Linked DNA regions of Homo sapiens: region 2 is linked to region 1. The links come from fine-mapping of genetic effects on gene expression. A gene starts in region 1. The other region holds a variant in brackets. All regions are shown on one strand. Distances are from middle to middle. Region 1 holds the start of COG1 (component of oligomeric golgi complex 1). Region 2 overlaps LINC00673 (long intergenic non-protein coding RNA 673).

The links.
Region 2: its variant is fine-mapped to the expression of COG1 in tibial nerve (GTEx, PIP 0.99).

Annotation. Positions count from the first base shown.
Region 1 is chr17:73,191,387-73,194,276 of GRCh38, forward strand. It overlaps COG1 (component of oligomeric golgi complex 1), which reads left to right and starts at 1,669. Exons shown (of 14, transcript NM_018714.3): 1 at 1,669-1,998. The coding sequence starts at 1,684. RefSeq lists enhancers at 896-1,655, 941-990, 1,621-1,900 and a silencer at 1,951-2,160.
Region 2 is chr17:72,563,677-72,566,574 of GRCh38, forward strand. All of the region lies in intron 1 of LINC00673 (long intergenic non-protein coding RNA 673), which reads right to left. Among named protein-coding and RNA genes, the nearest start is that of LINC00673, 28 kb to the right of the region's middle. The variant A/G (reference allele first, on the strand shown) is at 1,266.

The sequences.
Region 1 (2,890 bases):
CCCAAAGTGCTGGGATTACAGCCTGCTTCTTAATGTCACTAACTCTTCACCCAAGTCCTAGGCGCTTGTGCCTGCTGTGCCAGTCCCAGGCCGCAGGCTGGCACCGTAGCTATAAAGGGCGCCAGAAAAAAAGATTTTGCTAGATAGCGATGAATTCCCCAATCACAGAAAGGAGATACTGCGGATGCTTATCAGCCGAATACCAGTAAGTGTCCCTTGCAGAATGGGATTAGAGACTGCAAACTGCAGGCCTGCCAACAGAGGGTGCTCTGTGGGAAATTATGTGAAAACGTAGAAAAGAGCGCGAGCCAGTAATTTAAAAATCGACGTCCAAATACTCACTGGGTCACCTATCAGCTATGTAATTTGGGCAGGTAAATAAGCTTTTGTTTCTTTTTTTTTTTTCCTCATAAATGGACTAGGAATATTACTCCTACCTACCTGGCATGGCCGATGTGCGAGAAAATGAGATAATCTCGTGGACAGGCTCTGAAAACTGCACTTTTACTGAGTAAAAAACCCTTTGCCTCTCCGGGCCCCCGTTTCCCCATCTGTAAAATGAGTCTGTAAAGTGAGAATGATACTCCCTACGCCGCAAGGCTCTTGCGGGTTAAACTGGAATATTATAAATGCACCATTTATTTGCAGATTGAAATTCTGTGCGTCCGGAGGTGGCGGGTGGGAGAGGGAATGAGCAGGGATGCAGGGTAGGCCCTGAGTTGCTGGGGGCTCAGCATGGCCGCTGCGCACATTGCATCATTTTGTCGACACTGGTGTGGGTGAAATCTTCCAAAAGAAATTAAAACAGAAAAAAAAAAAAAGAAGGGTCTGGGACTTAGCAGAAACAAGCCACAATCTCCAGATTCTACTATTCCTGGGCCACGTGAGGAGCGCCCACCCGTCTGGCGCTGCGTTCCCCGGGGCGTCCCAGCCTCTCCCGCCCAGCCCGCCGCCCTCCTCCCCCATGGCCACCAAGGTCAGGCTCTCGCAGGGAAAACGTCTTCAGGGGCTAAACATCGGTTTTAAACGAAATGGAAAACCTCCAACACGAATCAACAGCAGAGGAAAAGCAGACGCCAAACAAGCGCTCAGAACCCCTTCAGGGGCGGCGTGGTAGCTCTTCCCGGGGAACAGCGAGGGGCGCGGATGTCCCTCTTCCTAAAACTGCACGCGGGGTGCGATCCGAGACCCAGCGGCGGCGAGCGCGCCCGAGTCTGCTCGCGGGCGCCAGGCGCGCGGAGAGCGGCGGCTGCGCCTGCGCCAACGCCGTCAGTCCGCGGGGCCCGATCCCGACACCTAACTCCACAGAGAAGCTCTGCTCCTAAGGGAAAGGGAAGACTTCAGCCACAGTTTCGCAGCCAACCTGGCGACCTCACCTCTCTGGCGACCTCACTTCCCAGCCGGCTCCGTTTAAGAAAACCCCGCGCAGGACCGCGCCCGCCCCCGCGCCCGCGCCCGCCCCCGCCCCCTCGCGCCCGCCCCCTCGCGCCCGCCCCCTCGCGCCCGCCCCCTCGCGCCCGCCCCCTCGCGCCCGCCCCCTCGCGCCCGCCCCCTCGCGCCCGCCCCCTCGGGTAACAAACATGGCCCCCGGCGGGGCGGAAGCGCTTCCGCCCCCAACGAAGATGGCGGAGGGGGCGGGACTAAAAGGGCGTAGGTAGATCGCCGGGGGCTGACGAGTGCACCATGGCCACCGCGGCAACCTCACCCGCGCTGAAGCGGCTGGATCTGCGCGACCCTGCGGCTCTTTTCGAGACGCATGGAGCGGAGGAGATCCGCGGGCTGGAGCGCCAGGTTCGGGCCGAGATCGAGCACAAGAAGGAGGAGCTGCGGCAGATGGTGGGCGAACGGTACCGCGACCTGATCGAGGCGGCCGACACCATCGGCCAGATGCGCCGCTGCGCCGTGGGGCTAGTGGACGCCGTGAAGGCCACCGACCAGTACTGCGCCCGCCTCCGCCAGGCCGGCTCGGCCGCGCCCCGGCCACCGCGGGCCCAGCAGGTCAGTCCCCGTGCCCCCACCCTGCGACCCGCAGGCGGGTCCCGGAGCCCCTGGCCTTGCAGGTCAACCCCGCCCCCCTCTGTCAGTCCCAGACCCCGCGAGTCCTCACCTTCCTTAGCCAGGAGCCTATCCGCCCCTCACCCTTTGGGCCCCCCTCAGAGGACAGTGCCAGCCTTCCTTGCACATATGCGGCTGCTGATCCGTTCTGGAAATGCCATTCAACAGTTTCTTCAGGCGCTTTCCCCCGACTTCCGGGCCTTGATTCCTACACCTCACTGGGCTCCTTTCAATTTTAGCGGAAAACGCCAGGAGTTTCTGTCTTGACAGTTCAACGCTCACCTATATAACATGTCCTGACATTGTTTTTCCTCAGGTTTCTCCCCTATGTTGACACCTGCACTCCAAGTCATTTCTTCCTCATCCCAACCTTCCCCTTATCTCCCCAAGAATAACTTCCACAACCCCAAATAGCTGTTCTACCCTTTGGGAGTTGTTGAGGGTACCAGCTATCAAGCCCTTAACTTTATGTATGTATGTGACAGGGTCTCCCAAAGTGCTGGGATTACAGTCATGAGCCACCACAGCCGGCCAAGCCCTTACCTTTTAATAGCTGAACATTTTCATTTTCAGAACTAAGGCTTTTTTCATTCAGGTTCTCCTTATCCCGTGTTCTTCCCCCCAAACGCTATTGATTAGACACAATGAGGAAGGATGGGAGGTAAACAAACACATCCTCATATTGGAGCTGCAGCTTGCGTTCCTAAAGAATTTTTATTGGCCGGGTGCGGTGGCTCACGCCTGTAATCCCAGCACTTTGGGAGGCCGAGGCGGGTGGATCACGAGGTCAGGAGATCCAGACCATCCTGGCTAACACGGTGAAACCCCGTCTCTA
Region 2 (2,898 bases), 630 kb before region 1:
GCGCAATAGTGTGATCTCGACTTATTGCAACCTCTGCCTCCCGGGTTCAAGTGATTCTCCTGCCTCAGCCTCCCAAGTAGCTGGGATTATAGGCAAGCGTTCATAAATGTTCCCATACACGTCTGTGGCTCATGCTACATGGTATTCGGTTGAATCTGCTGCCTCATGGCTCTATAAAAGGCAAGGTGGGGGGTGTGCATATGTGTGCACATGAGCATGCATGCACGTCTGGCTATTTTTTCATATTTTCAGTAGAGACGGGGTTTCACCATGTTGGCCAGGCTGGTCTCGAACTCCTGACCTCAAGTGATCCTCCCACCTTGGCCTCCCAAAGTGCTGGGATTACAGAAGGCAAGCACATTTTTAAACCACAAAACACAAAAAGTCAGATCCACCTGCGAGCGTGCATTCTGTCTGGCGTCAGCCCTAATAGTCTCCCTCTCTTCCATCATTCAGGGCCCCAGGGAGTCGAGTGCTTACTCAGCACTTAGACCAGGGGATTCAGGGATTTCTGCCTGGAAAGCCCCGTCTCTCCTGTCTTGGTGGTAACCTGGTCCCTTTTACCTGCAGCTCTGGCAAACGCCAGCTGCTGGGTGCTTCCTCCTCCTTCATGAGAAAAGATGAGAAACTGGGGTAAACAACCCACCAAGGGCAGGTATGGAGAGAAGAAGGAAAGGCTAAGACACAGATGGGAGAAGACAGACAGGGAGAAGGTAGGGAGAAGATGACCCATTTGGACCTGCTCCTCAATGCCCAAGAAGCAGAGAGTTTTTCAAGGACAGCTTTAATAATAAGAGCTCTTCTTCGAAGCTCAGGGGGATGGATGGAGGAAGAGTGTGAGACCCACAGCAAGAGCAGCAAGCTGACACCTCCCTCGCCACAGCTGGAAGCCGCTGCCCACTGACCAATCCCATAGACGCCCTTCACTCCCCAGCCTCCACACCCCTGGCTAAGAGGACCCAGAATGGATAGCACAGTTGTTTTTTTTCCCCCTCTCCCAACCTCCCTGGGGCTCAAGGAACGGGATAAGGGTTATGACTGCCAGATCAGAGACTCAAGTCACTTCAGATGTTCCTTTTTTTTAAAAAAAAAAAAAAAAAAAAAAAAAAAAGGCCGGACGCGGTGGCTCATGCCTGTAATCCCAGCACTTTGGGAGGCCGAGGTGGGCGGATCACGAGGTCAGGAGATCGAGACCATCTTGACTAACACGGTGAAACCCCATCTCTACTAAAAATACAAAAAAAGAAAAAAATTAGCCGGGTGTG[A/G]TGGCGGGCACCTGTAGTCCCAGCTACTCGGGAGGCTGAGGCAGGAGAATGGCGTGAACCCGGGAGGTGGAGCTTGCAGTGAGCCGAGATAGTGCCACTGCACTCCAGCCTGGGCGAAAGAGTGAGACTCCATCTCAAAAAAAAAAAAAAAACAAAAACAAAAAAAAAAAGCAAGGCACAAAAGTGCAATCTGTGGTGAAAAACTGGAACTCAAAGGCCAAGAGTTAAGGACTGGTTAAGGAAACAATGGCCCACTGACTCACTGGCCCTCAAGCACCATTGAAGATAATTATCAATGTAGGCTGCAACATAGAAAATTGGTCTTATTATAAAGTGAAAGAAGGAAGATACGTAGAATATCCATGGAATGGTTCCATCCTGCCAACGCGATATGAACATCTGGTCCAGAGCTTCAAGAAGATAACAAATGTATTTCATCTCTAGGCCTCTGTCAACTTTTCAAATTTTCTACCACTGTTTTCACACCAAGACCACCATAACAGCCTTAGCATTATGCATTTGCAACTTGCGTACCTCCCTGATGTTTCCCGTCCCCTCTCTCCCTTTACAGAAGCAATTACTTGGGCCAGGCACAGTGGCTCACGCCTGTAATCCCAGCACTTTGGGAGGCCGAGATGGGTGGATCACTTGAGGTCAGGAGTTCGAGACCAGCCTGGCCAACACGGTGAAACCCCGTGTCTACTAAAAATACAAAAAATTAGCTGGGCATGGAGGCGGGCACCTGTAATCCCAGCTACTTGGGAGACTGAGGCAGAAGAATCACTTGAACCCGGGAGGCGGAGGTTGCAGTGAGCCGAGATCATGCCACTGCACTCCAGCCTGAGCAACAGAGTGAGACTCCCTCTCAAAAACAAAAAAAAAAAAAAGAAGAAGAGCTCTTGGAATAAGAGCTGGGCCGTCCACCACACGTGTGTTCGTGTGCACACGCACACACACAAACACTCGGCAGTTCCACTTAACCATTCTCAAGTCAGAGCAACTGGTGGCTCTTGAGGCCAGGCCATCAGCATGGGGAGGACAATGTGGCTTTTCTCTTTCAAGGGCTGTTTGCTTAACACTGAGACCTCCTGAGCCTGAGCAAGGTTATGAAAGGGGGACGACTTCTCAGCTCTCAGCGTCTGGAAGGAATCCCAATGCACACTGCTCCCTGGTTTCTGATGTTCCTTGTGCCCAGTGGTCCTCCTGGGATGGAAATGCAGGGGCAGAGAAGAGGAAGATGGACTACAGCCAAGCATCGCTGGGGATGGAGGATGGCGTGGAAAGAGGGTGCCCCAGGGCCACTGGGCAAGCCTAGAGATTCGTTTCTCCTTTGAGTATCTCCCAAAAATTCTTCACTGGAACTCGAGCCTGGAAGTCCACTCAAGGGAACAAATCATCCATAAGCAGCAGCCATGTGCCAGGCAGGTCCAAGAGCAGAATGGAAGAGTCTTCAAGGATTTCCAGGATGTGGAGTTTGAGAGTGGAGGAAGAGAAGAGATCAGAGGCCAGGAGTTCACCAGCACAGCCCCAGTTCCTTGCACCAGGACAGTTTCATGGCCAAGCCCTGCTACCCTGTTAGTCAGGGTACCCGGCCACCCTTGAGACTCATTGGCTAAAGAATTCACTCACTACA